Linked DNA regions of Homo sapiens. The gene in region 2 interacts genetically with the main gene of each other region. Each region holds a gene or a part of one and is shown on either strand. Other genes may lie near its edges. The genes, in order: KEAP1, STAC2 and RB1.

What was found.
Region 1: changes in STAC2 (region 2) and KEAP1 together harm fitness more than expected from each alone (negative genetic interaction), as found in Homo sapiens cells (one large-scale study listed by BioGRID).
Region 3: changes in STAC2 (region 2) and RB1 together harm fitness more than expected from each alone (negative genetic interaction), as found in Homo sapiens cells (one large-scale study listed by BioGRID).

The regions. Positions count from the first base shown.
Region 1 is NC_000019.10:10,486,324-10,489,970, forward strand, and holds part of KEAP1 (kelch-like ECH-associated protein 1), read right to left. Parts: intron 3,531-3,647; coding exon 3,325-3,530; intron 3,046-3,324; coding exon 2,869-3,045; intron 496-2,868; coding exon 329-495; 3' UTR 1-328. UniProt on the Homo sapiens protein: Substrate-specific adapter of a BCR (BTB-CUL3-RBX1) E3 ubiquitin ligase complex that regulates the response to oxidative stress by targeting NFE2L2/NRF2 for ubiquitination.
Region 2 is NC_000017.11:39,223,131-39,227,244, forward strand, and holds the start of STAC2 (SH3 and cysteine-rich domain-containing protein 2), read right to left. Parts: upstream 2,816-4,114; 5' UTR 2,373-2,815; coding exon 2,283-2,372; intron 1-2,282. UniProt on the Homo sapiens protein: Plays a redundant role in promoting the expression of calcium channel CACNA1S at the cell membrane, and thereby contributes to increased channel activity. Slows down the inactivation rate of the calcium channel CACNA1C.
Region 3 is NC_000013.11:48,380,251-48,383,897, reverse strand, and holds part of RB1 (retinoblastoma-associated protein), read right to left. Parts: intron 2,652-3,647; coding exon 2,455-2,651; coding exon of another isoform or gene 2,443-2,454; exon of another isoform or gene 1-2,442. UniProt on the Homo sapiens protein: Tumor suppressor that is a key regulator of the G1/S transition of the cell cycle. The hypophosphorylated form binds transcription regulators of the E2F family, preventing transcription of E2F-responsive genes.

The DNA.
Region 1 (3,647 bases), on a different chromosome or scaffold from region 2:
ACATGGTGACAGCTGCCGGCATGGGTGAGTGGGACCCAGGCCTATTACCCGGCCAGAGGGTTTGGGGGCCTCTCTCCTGGAAGCCTGCTCTTTCCACACCCCCTTTCCCAGCCAGGCTGTCTTGGACACTCCCGGGGCTCCGCTGAGGGGCACATGATTCCCGCTTTGGACTTCTTTTGAGATGTCATTTTAACACTGAGGCATCCTGGCCTCCCTTCCCGGAAGATGGGTTATTTGCAGTGCTGTCTTTTCTTTTAGTCCCGGTTTTTGTACAAAAACAATGATACTCCCCATTGGACTGTATTTTTGCCCAAGAAACAAAAGTGCCTCAACAGGTACAGTTCTGCTGGTCAATCTGCTTCCGGCAGGGCTCCATGGTGACAGCCACGCCCACCCCACTCCGGCCCGATGTCATTCGGGTCACCTCGCTCCAGGTGTCTGTATCTGGGTCGTAACACTCCACACTGTCCAGGAACGTGTGACCATCATAGCCTCCTGCGGGAAGAACAGAAGGGATGGTCACCACCTGTCACACCACATCCAAGAGCAGGGGACAGAAAGAGAGAGATGCAGCTGTGAGATGCAAAAGCAGGCCGGGCGTGGTGGCTCACGCCTATAATCCTAGCACTTTGCAGGGCTGAGGCAGGAGGATTGCTTGAGGCCAGGAGTTCGAAGCCAGCCTGGGCAACATAGCAAAACCTTAGTCTCTTACTAAAAAAAAAAAAAAAAAAAAAAAATGGCCAGGCTTGGTAGCTCACGCCTATAATCCCAGCACTTTGGGAGACTGAGGTGGGTGGATCACTTGAGTCCAGGAGTTTGAGACCAGCCTGGGCAACATGGTGAAGCCCCATCTCTACAAAAAAACATAAAAATTTAGCCAGGCTTGGTGGTGCGCGCCTGTAGTCCTAGCTATTAGGGAGGCTGAGGTGGGGAGGATCAGTTGAGTCTGGGAGGCAGAGGTTGCAGTGAGCAGAGGCTGCACCACTGTACTCTAGCCTAGGCAACAGAGTGAGACCCTATCTCAAAATAAATAAATAAAAATAGGAAAATAGGCCACTCGCGGTGGCTCATGCCTGCAATCCCAGCACTTTGGGAGGCCGAGGCGGGCAGATCACCTGAGATCAGGAGTTCGAGGCCAGCCTCGCCAACAGAGTGAAACCCTGTATCTACTAAAAATACAAAATTAGATGCGATTGGTGATGCACGCCTGTAATCTCAGCTACCTGGGAGACTGAGGTAGGAGAATCGCTTGAACCCGGGAGGCGGAGGTTGCAGTGAGCTGAGATTGTGCCACTGCACTCCAGCCTGGTGACAGAGCAAGACTCCACCTCAAAATAAATAAATAAATAAATAAACAAAAAATAAAAAAATAAAAATAAAATAAAATAAAGGCCGGGCACAGTGGCTCATGCCTGTAATCCCAGGACTTTCGGAGGCTGAGGCAGGTGGATCACCTGAGGTCAGGAGTTCAAGACCAGCCTGGCTAACATTGTGAAACCCCGTCTCTACTAAAAATCAAAATTGGCCGGGCATGGTGGCTCACACCTGTAATCCCATCCCTCTGGGAGGCCGAGGCGGGCAGATCACCTGAGGTCAGGAGTTCGAGACCAGCCTGACCAACATGGAGAAAACCCTTCTCTACTAAAAATACAAAATTAGCCGGGCGTGGTGGCGCATGCCTGTAACCTCAGCTACTCGGGAGGCTGAGGGAGGAAAATCGCTTGAACCTGCCAGGTGGAGGTTGCAGTGAGCCGAGATCGAGCCATTGCACTCCAGCATGGGCAACGAAAGTGAAACTCCATCTCAAAAAAAAATTAGCTAGGCGTGGTGGCACGTGCCTGTATTCCCAGCTACTCAGGAGGCTGAGACAGGAGAATCACTTGAACCTGGGAAGCAGAGGTTGCAGTGAGCCAAGATTGCGCCATTGCACTCCAGCCTGGGCAACATGAGCAAAACTCTGTCTCAAAAAAATAAAATAAAATAAAATAAAAATAAACAAAAACATTAAGCTGGGCGCGGTGGCTCACACCTGTAATCCCAGCACTTTGGGAGGCTGAGGTGGGCAGATCACCTGAGGTCAGGCGTTCAAGACCAGCCTGACCAACATGGTGAAACCCCATCTCTACTAAAATACAAAAATTAGCTGGGCATAGTGGCAGGCGCCTGTAATCTCAGCTACTTGGGAGGCTGATGGGGGAGAATCACTTGAAACCAGGAGGCGGAGGTTGCAGTGAGCTGAGATCGTGCCATTGCACTCCAGCCTGGCAACAGACTGAGACTCTGTCTCAAAAAACAAAACAAAACAAAACAAAACAAAAAACAAAACAGGCCGGGCGCGGTGGCTCATGCCTCTAATCCTAGCACTTTGGGAGGCCGAGGCAGGTGGATCACGAGGTCAGGAGTTCGAGACCATCCTGGCCAACATGGTGAAACCCTGTCTCTACTAAAATACAAAAAATTAGCCTGGTGTGGTGGCATGTGCCTGTAGTCGCAGCTACTCAGGAGGCTGAGACAGGAGAATCGCTTGAACCCAGGAGGTGGAGGTTGCAGTGAGCTGAGATCATGCCATTGCACTCCAGCCTGGGCAACACTGTGAGACACCATCTCAAAAGAAAAAAAACATTAGCCGGGTGTGGTGGTGCGCGCCTGTGGTCCCTGCTACTTGGGAGGCTGAGGCAGGAGGATGGCTGGAGCCCAGGCTGTTGAGGCTCCAGCGAGCTGTGATCACACCACTGCACTCCAGCTGGGCAACAGAGCGAGACCTTGTTTCTAAAAAAAAAAAAAAAAAAAAAAAAAAGGAAAGCAAAAGCAAAAGCAGTCCACAAAAGATGGGCTAGTCAGGACTCTTCCCCGCCCCCAGGGCCTCACCAAGGACGTAGATTCTCCCCTGGTGGACAGTGATCCCCAGGGCACTTCGCCGGTGCTTCATGGGGGCTACGAAAGTCCACGTCTCTGTTTCCACATCGTAGCGCTCCACGCTGTTCAGCTGGTCCTGACCATCATAGCCCCCAGCAGCATAGATACAGTTGTGCAGGACGCAGACGCCTAAAGGGCACCATGCAGAGAAGGTGACTCTGGGGGTCTGGCTTTGGGAACCCCAGCCATCACCTCCTTGAGGGAGACCTTTCCTCTCTCCTCTCCCTTCTCACCCTCAGAAATGAAGCGGGGAGAGAGAGAAGCTTGGACTCTATCAGAATCCAGGGCTTCTGTGGTTACCCCAGCATGAGGGTTGCAACAGGGGGTCTCTCCCAGGCCTGGCTCAGTTTCACCCCAGGATGGTAGGGGGTGTTCCTGGGTGCTCCCCTCCCTACCGTCCCCACCCACCTGCCCCGCTTCGGATGGTGTTCATTGCTGTGATCATTCGCCACTCGTTCCTCTCTGGGTAGTAACACTCAGCTGAATTAAGGCGGTTTGTCCCGTCAAAGCCCCCCACGGCATAAAGGAGACGATTGAGGACAGCCACGCCCACCCCGATCCTTCGTGTCAGCATTGGGGCCACCAAGTGCCACTCATCCCGCTCTGGCTCATACCTGCAAGGGCGTAAGAAAAATGGGGACAATGGCCATTATAGCTGACCTTCGTGGAATACTTAAGGGCCAGATACTCTTTTTTTTCCTTTTTTTTTTCCCCCTTAAAGAGACAGGTTC
Region 2 (4,114 bases):
ATAAGCCTGGAATGTTGGCATCACTGCCTGAAGGGCATTGGCCCCCTCTGTTGTACCTGCCTCACACTGAGCTTGGTGGGCGGCACCCAACTGTACTCTTCCATCTCCACCCACAGTCTGGAGACAGGAGCTTCTTTGGGCCAGGTTGAGGTGCAGGATGGAAGGAGGCTAGCAGGGGTCCTGAGTTCTCTCTCTGCCCACCTCTGCCCTGCTGAATACCCCCGACCCAACCCACAGCCCAGTCTGTGTTAGTGCAGAATCCTTCACAAGAGTGATGTATAGGGGAGGGGCGGAGGGCCGGGGCTCCAGCTGGCCTGACACAGAAGGGCCGGATCAGGGGTGTAACCCCTCCCCTCCCCTACTCCTTGAATCTCCAAGCTCAGACCCAGAGGTGACAACATTGGAGGGTCCCTGGCCTGGGAAGAGGGAGAGGTACAGACCTGTGGCCCTTGACCTTCCCTCCCCACACAGCTGAGCAGGCAGCTTGCTGGAGTACTGAGGCAGCACTACCCCACACTCCTGCCCGCCTTCCAGCACTCCCACATAGGAGGAGGCTGGAGAGGACAGGCCTTGGTGTGGGAAACAGGGCAGGGCCTGGGAGGCCCCCAAGCCCCTGGAGGCAAGCAGGGGGACTGTGTATGTCTACCCAGGTGACTAGAGGGCAACCGAAATCAGGGGCATTGGAACTCAGGGGAGGTTCAGCTCCTAGACCTTCTGCTTGACAGAAGTTGTCACAAATATTCCAAGCAATATCCTCCCACCCAAACATCTTAGTCCTTTCCCAGGAGAGACTGAGACTTGGCTCTCTAAAGGGGAGTCAGCTCTGGCCTCACAGACCAGAGTCTCATTTTTAGAAGGGGGCAAGAGAGAGTCAGGTGTGCATGTGAAGACTTGAATGTGGAGACCTGCTGGGTCCCCTGGTGCAGGATGGGGGCTCCCTGGGGTGCCTCTGCCAGACTCCACCCTGACCCTACGGCCTCCTCCTCCGGTCACTCCCTTGATGACCTTGACCTTGAATTAACCTCAGCTCCTGCGGGATGGTCAAGATGGAAGAAGGAGGAAGGGGGACAGTGGAAAGAAGCCTAGCGAACCCAGGACGCCTCCGGAGCCCAGGCTCCCATCATTTCTGGTCCTCACTGTCCCCTTTCGCCTCTGGAGAACAGGAGCAGGATGGGAACAAAATACCGGGTGAAGGGGGAGGGAGGAGGTCTTGGCCTGAAGTCTGGGAGGTGGCAGGGCGCGCCCTTGGCACAGCCCTTTCTATCCCAACCCCAGGCCCGCTCAGGTTGATCCCGCAGAAACAGAACTTCTCGCGGGCCAGTCGCCAGCACCTAGAACTTGGGAAGGGAGCAGACGGATTAGAGGTCGGGGGAGTGCTGAGTGTGAGCGGCGGCCTCCCCACACCCCTTTCAGCGCCAGGAGTCTGGGCTCCGCCTGCCTTCGCGGGGAGTAATTTATTCATGGTGACTCCCTCAGGAGTAACAATCATCCATAATTAGGGTTAATGATGACATTCATTAATTACGATGACTTCTCTTTTTGCTTCTACCCGCTCCCCCTCCTCTGGTCCCGCTCCCGTGGTGGGGCGCGGGGCTGCCTGTCTTTCTGGTCTGGAGCCACAACCGCAGGCCCCCGTCCTCGCCCGTGACCGACGGCCGGCGCTGCTGCAGGCCCCCTCGCGGACTCCGCAGCTGCGCACCCCCGGCCGCGGCCTCGCGTCCCCGAGCCCAACAGGGCTAGGAGCGGGGAATGCAGGACTGCGGAGGGGCAGGGAGAGACGCCCTGAGACGCGGAGATAAACACCCGGAGACGCCGGGAGAGACGGGGAGAGACGCACACAGAGACACCAAGACACAGACACGCAGGTTGTAGAGACAAATTCAGAGACACGAGCGAGGATAGAGGCGCGGACTGAGCCCGGGACTGGGACCCGGCGGCCGCTGGAGGGTGCGCCTCGCACGCACAGCCGGGCGCGTACCCCGCCCGCACCGCTCCACGCGCGCCCTCCGGCCTCGCTGCGCCCATCTCTCCAACGAAGACCAGTGGCCGCCTCCCCAGAAGGTCGCGATGGCGCGCGCGGGCGTGCGGTGCCGGTGTGATCGGGGGCTCCTTGTGGCCCCTCGTCGCCAACCCACTCCTACCCCCGGGAGCGGCGCGGAGCCTCAGTGGTCACGCGGGCCTCGCGACCGCGACCCTAGGACGCCCGGGCCCACAGGAGGACCCCGCCGGGAAGAGGGCGCCCGGGCCCGGGGCGCGGACAGGCCTTGCGCCCCCCAAGTTACCTTGGTTTCCTGGAGGGCGGAGACGGTCCCTGGGGGGCTGTGGGTGGCCGCGTCATCCGGTTCGTTCTCCTTCTCGCTCATCTCGGTCATGGTTCGGGGAGAGGGGAGGAGAGGGTGCCGAGATCCGACGGCAGGCCCACCGCGGGCAGGCTGCGGGTGGCGGGCGTCTCCGGGACTCTGAAGCCGTTCTCCAGAGGCTGCCCCCAGTTAGCCCCCGGCACGGCAGCCCCCAACCCGCGGGAGCGGGCAGAGAAAGTTGCCGGGGTGGCGGGCGAGGGGAGGCCACCACGCTGAGCCGCAGGAGCGGGACGACCCCGGGCGCGAGGACCGAGGGTCTGCAGAGGATGCTGCTCGCAGCGCGGGGAGGAGGGAAGTGGGGCCGCGGGGATGAGCCGAGGGAGGGAGCCAAGGAGCTGTCCGTGTCCAGCCGGCTCCGCCGTCCGCTGCGCCCGCCCCCCATCCCCTCCCCTCCCCCGCCGGCCCCAGCCCGGCACCCGGCGGCCCCTCCGCCCAGTCCTCGCCGCCCAACTTTGATTTAGGAGGTCGCCTGGTCCCGCCCCCTGCCCTACGCCGCTCCCCCGCGCAGCCCTGCAAATCAGGCTCTCAGCTATTGGCTGCCTCGGTGGCCAGGAGGGCGAACTGGGCGGAGTCTTGGGGGGCTCGACACGATGGGGCGGGGCTTGGCGGGGAAAGAAGCGGAGGAGGGAGTTTCACACTGAAAAACCCGGGATGGAGGGGCGTGACCAGATTGAGGGAAGCTTGGGGAGATCATAGTAGCGTCTGGATGGGTTGCAGGGAATAGAAATAGGTTGGGGCCGCAGCAAGATAGCGGAGAGTGAGATCGAAGCTAGGACTTCCAAAGAGCGAAGATTGATAGATGCCAGAGGTTGGTGAAGGAAGAATGGGGACCCATCTGTGCCATTAATTGGATGCCTTTATACCCTGAAAAGGCTCTCTCCAAATATACACACAACTGGACTATGGTGTATGTGTCAAAGGCCAGGCCGGACAATTCCTCCTTGTGATGGAAAGCCGGATGACTCTATCCCCTTCCAGTCTTGGCGTCTGAACTTCAGCAGAGATGGGGGCTCAGTCCTCACACCCAAAGTCCCCAAACTTCTCTGAGACACGCTCCCCTCCTAAAGATCCTACCACAACTGGAGTTAGATCAGGGGATAATACAGAGAGGTGGGGGAAGAGGTCCTCACCATCACCTTCCAAGGTGCCCCTCTCTCCACAATAACCTTCTATTTTTTATTTTTTTATTTTTTTATTTAGAGACAGGGTTTCACTCTTTCACCCAGGCTGGAGTGCAGTGGTGCGATCATAACTCACTGCAGTCTCAAACTCCTAGGCTCAAGCAATCCTCCCACCTCAGCCTCTCTAGTTGCTGGGACCACAGGCATACGCCACCATGCCTGGCTAATTTTTAAAATTTATTGGTAGAGACAAGTCTTGCTATGTTACACAGGATGATCTCCAACTCCTGGGCTCAAGCGATCTTCTCACTTTGGCCTCCCAACGTATTGGGATTACAGGCGTGAGCCACTGTGCCCGTTCAAGATATTTCCAATATTTCTTCTTCTCCTTCTCTTCTTCTTCTTTTTTTTTTTTTTTTTTTTTTTTTTTTTTTGGAGACAGGATCTTGCTCTATTGGCCAGGCTGTAGTGCAGTGGCTTGATCACACCTCACTGTAGCCTGGACCTCCTGGGCTCAACCCTCCCAAGTAGCTGGGACCACAGGCACATGCCACTGCACCCAGCTAATTTTAAAATTTTTTGTAGAGATGGAGTCTCGCTATGTTGCCCAGGCTAGTCTTAAACTCCTAGGCT
Region 3 (3,647 bases), on a different chromosome or scaffold from region 2:
AAATAACAATAGTCACTTTCAGATGATACAGGAATATCTCAATATCAATTTCTGGGAGGAGAGGACACATAAGCCTTTAAAAAGTACTCTATGTGCTTATTTTATTTACTTATCTATTTATTTTTACTTTCACTTAATTACCCAGATTCAGAAAGTTTTCTTCTAAGTACTCCTTATCAAGTGTAAATTCATTCCATAAGTAGTTATGAAATTCAATAATAGGAGTGTAACATTCTTCTATCAATTTCCCATGTTTCTCTCCTCTATTCACTCTGTCTATATGGCAATACAAGAAAACACTAAGAAATAAATTATCGCTTAGTCATTAAAAATTCAAAACGTAAGGAAATTAAAACTAAGGTTACATGTGCAAATTAGGATTATGGCATACCTAAAGTCTTAATTTTTTAATTACCACTTCTATATACTGATACAAATTAAAAGATATATACTTAGCATGCAACACAGTTTCAAAAGAAACCATTAATTTACAAAACTGATGATTCACAAAGTATTATCCAACTATGTTGATTTGAAGAGCATAACCTCAAGTTGCCACTTTTATTAAAACAAAAGCCTTATCAATAGTTATAATGCTATAAAGAGAATCCTAGACAATATAATTTGTGCCCCTATATTGATTGAACCAATACCTATAATTGAACAATAGTATACATTTTTATACTTTAATAATGGGAAAAAATGAATCCTACTATATTTAACAAGAAAAAAATGCACTTTTTAATAATCTAAATAGCATAATCTCACAATTTAAGAGCAGACATTTGCATTTTCAAATATATAACAACTGTACTTTAAATAAATTATCTAAATACTTTAAAGAATTCTGTTTTGGTTTAGAACAGGGCCCTCAGAAATAATACCACACATCTACAACCATCTGATCTTTGACAAACCTGACAAAAACAAGAAATGGAGAAAGGATTCCCTATTTAATAAATGGTGCTGGGAAAACTGGCCAGCCATATGTAGAAAGCTGAAACTGGATCCCTTCCTTACACCTTGTACAAAAATTAATTCAAGATGGATTAAAGACTTAAATGTTAGACCTAAAACCATAAAAACCCTAGAAGAAAACCTAGGCAATACCATTCAGGACATCGGCATGGGCAAGGACTTCATGACTAAAACACCAAAAGCAATAGCAACAAAAGCCAAAATTGACAAATGGGATCTAATTAAACTAAAGAGCTTCTGCACAGCAAAAGAAACTACGATCAGAGTGAACAGGCAACCTACAGAATGGGAGAAAACTTTTACAATCTACCCATCTGACAAAGGGCTAATATCCAGAATCTACAAAGAACTCAAACAAATTTACAAGAAAAAATCAACCCCATCAAAAAGTGGGTGAAAGATATGAACAGACACTTCTCAAAAGAAGACATTTATGCAGCCAAAAGACACATGAAAAAATGCTCATCATCACTGGCCATCAGAGAAATGCAAATCAAAACCACAATGAAATACCATCTCACACCAGTTAGAATGGCGATCATTAAAAAGTCAGGAAACAACAGATGCTGGAGAGGATGTGAAGAAATAGGAACACTTTTACACTGTTGGTGGGACTGTAAACTAGTTCAACAGTGTGGCGATTCCTCAAGGATCTAAAACCAAAAATAGCATTTGACCCAGCCATCTCATTACTGGGTATATACCCAAAGGATTATAAATCATGCTGCTATAAAGACACATGCACACGTATGTTTATTGTGGCACTATTCACAATAGCAAAGACTTGGAAGCAACCCAAATGTCCAACAATAATAGACTGGAGTAAGAAAATGTGGCACATATATACCATGGAATATGTGGCACATATATACTATGCAGCCATAAAAAAGGATGAGTTCATGTCCTTTGTAGGGACATGGATGAAGCTGGAAACCATCATTCTGAGCAAACTATTGCCAAGACAGAAAACCAAACACTGCATGTTCTCACTCATAGGTGGGAAATGAACAATGAGAACACGTGGACACAGGGTGGGGAACATCACACACTGGGGCCTGTCATGGGGTAGGGAGAGGAGGGAGGGATAGCATTAGGAGATATATCTAATGTAAATGACAAGTTAATGGGTGCAGCACACCAATATGGCACATGTATACATATGTAACAAACCTGCACGTTGTGCACATGTACCCTAGAACTTAAAGTATAAAAAAAAAATCCGTTTTGTTTTAAAGTGGCATGTTTTAAGAAAAGCTATTCTTAAATAAATCACTGTGCTGTATTAGATGGTTTAGGGTGCTCGATTAAAGCTCCATTCTAATATTCCACTTGATCCTTGGGCTATAGACTGAAATAACATTATTCATTAAATTCCCTATATGTTCTTGAGGTAGATGTTAAGAAACACCTCTCACTAACAATAATTTGTTAGCCATATGCACATGAATGAATTTCTTCAATTATTTAGCTACTTACTGAGAGCCATGCAAGGGATTCCATGATTCGATGTTCACATCGTTCTAAATGTTTTATCATTTCTCTTGTCAAGTTGCCTTCTGCTTTGATAAAACTTTCGATCACTTTGTAAAAATCAAAGGCTTTTAAATTAAGCACATTCAGAATCCATGGGAAAGACAAATCTGTTCCAGAATCAAGATTCTGAGATGTACTTCCTAAAAATGAAAAAAAAAAGTAACTATTTATGAAATATTAACCCTTGAGCTAGGTATTTTTTTGGAAGTTATTATCAGACAAAGAAAACAGTAGAAAGGTTAAACCATTTTTATTTAGAGCAGAATTTTTTATTTTGGAGTCTACGGACTCATAGGAAATAGCCTTCCAATTTTGAGTGTAAGCAAATCTGTGTTTTTCCTAGAGAAAGGACTTATAGCTGATCTCAAATTTTCAAAGATTTAAATACCCTAAACTTATATCAGGAACAGGTTTAGTATCTTATCAGCCATTGGCATATCTATTTTAATTCTCATTAATCCTTGGTAAGAGGATAGACAGATTCTTCAAGATTCTGCTAATTTCATTAGTTACAAAATGGTATCTCATTAAAATATGCATTTCTTGGTTATAAATGAGGATTCACAGTTTTCCTTATCTGTTTACTAATAAGGAAACTAAAAGTTCCTCTTTTTCTGTGTTTTGCATCCTTATACAAATGTTCCTTTTGTTTCTGCAAGCAAAACTTTCTTTTAACATTTGCAACATAATTTGCAAAGTGATATACATTTATGTTTTTAAAAACATTGTAATTGGCCTTTGTTCTGTTTATCCAGTGGATTCTAGCTTCAATCTTTAGTTTCATAACCATGGAGGTTACAGCAGTGCTTCCATATCAGTAGAGGCCACTCTTGAATACTCCTTTGGCACTCTACAATCTCAAAGGTCTTCGGAGGGATTTCAAAAAGTACCTTTTTTGGATTCAGTATACCAGTATACTCAGAAGAGAAGCCTAGTGAAATATTATCCCCAAGATGGCCTCAAATAACTCAAATAAGCCTCTTAAATGGCTTATAATGACCAATTACATTCTTCAGTATATAGTGATCTAAAATAAGCATTCCTTCTCCTTAACCTCACACTATCCCTCTCCCCCGACCAAAGAAACACACCACATTTTAACTTTAAATTGAACAAAAGTGTTTATTTATGAAAAT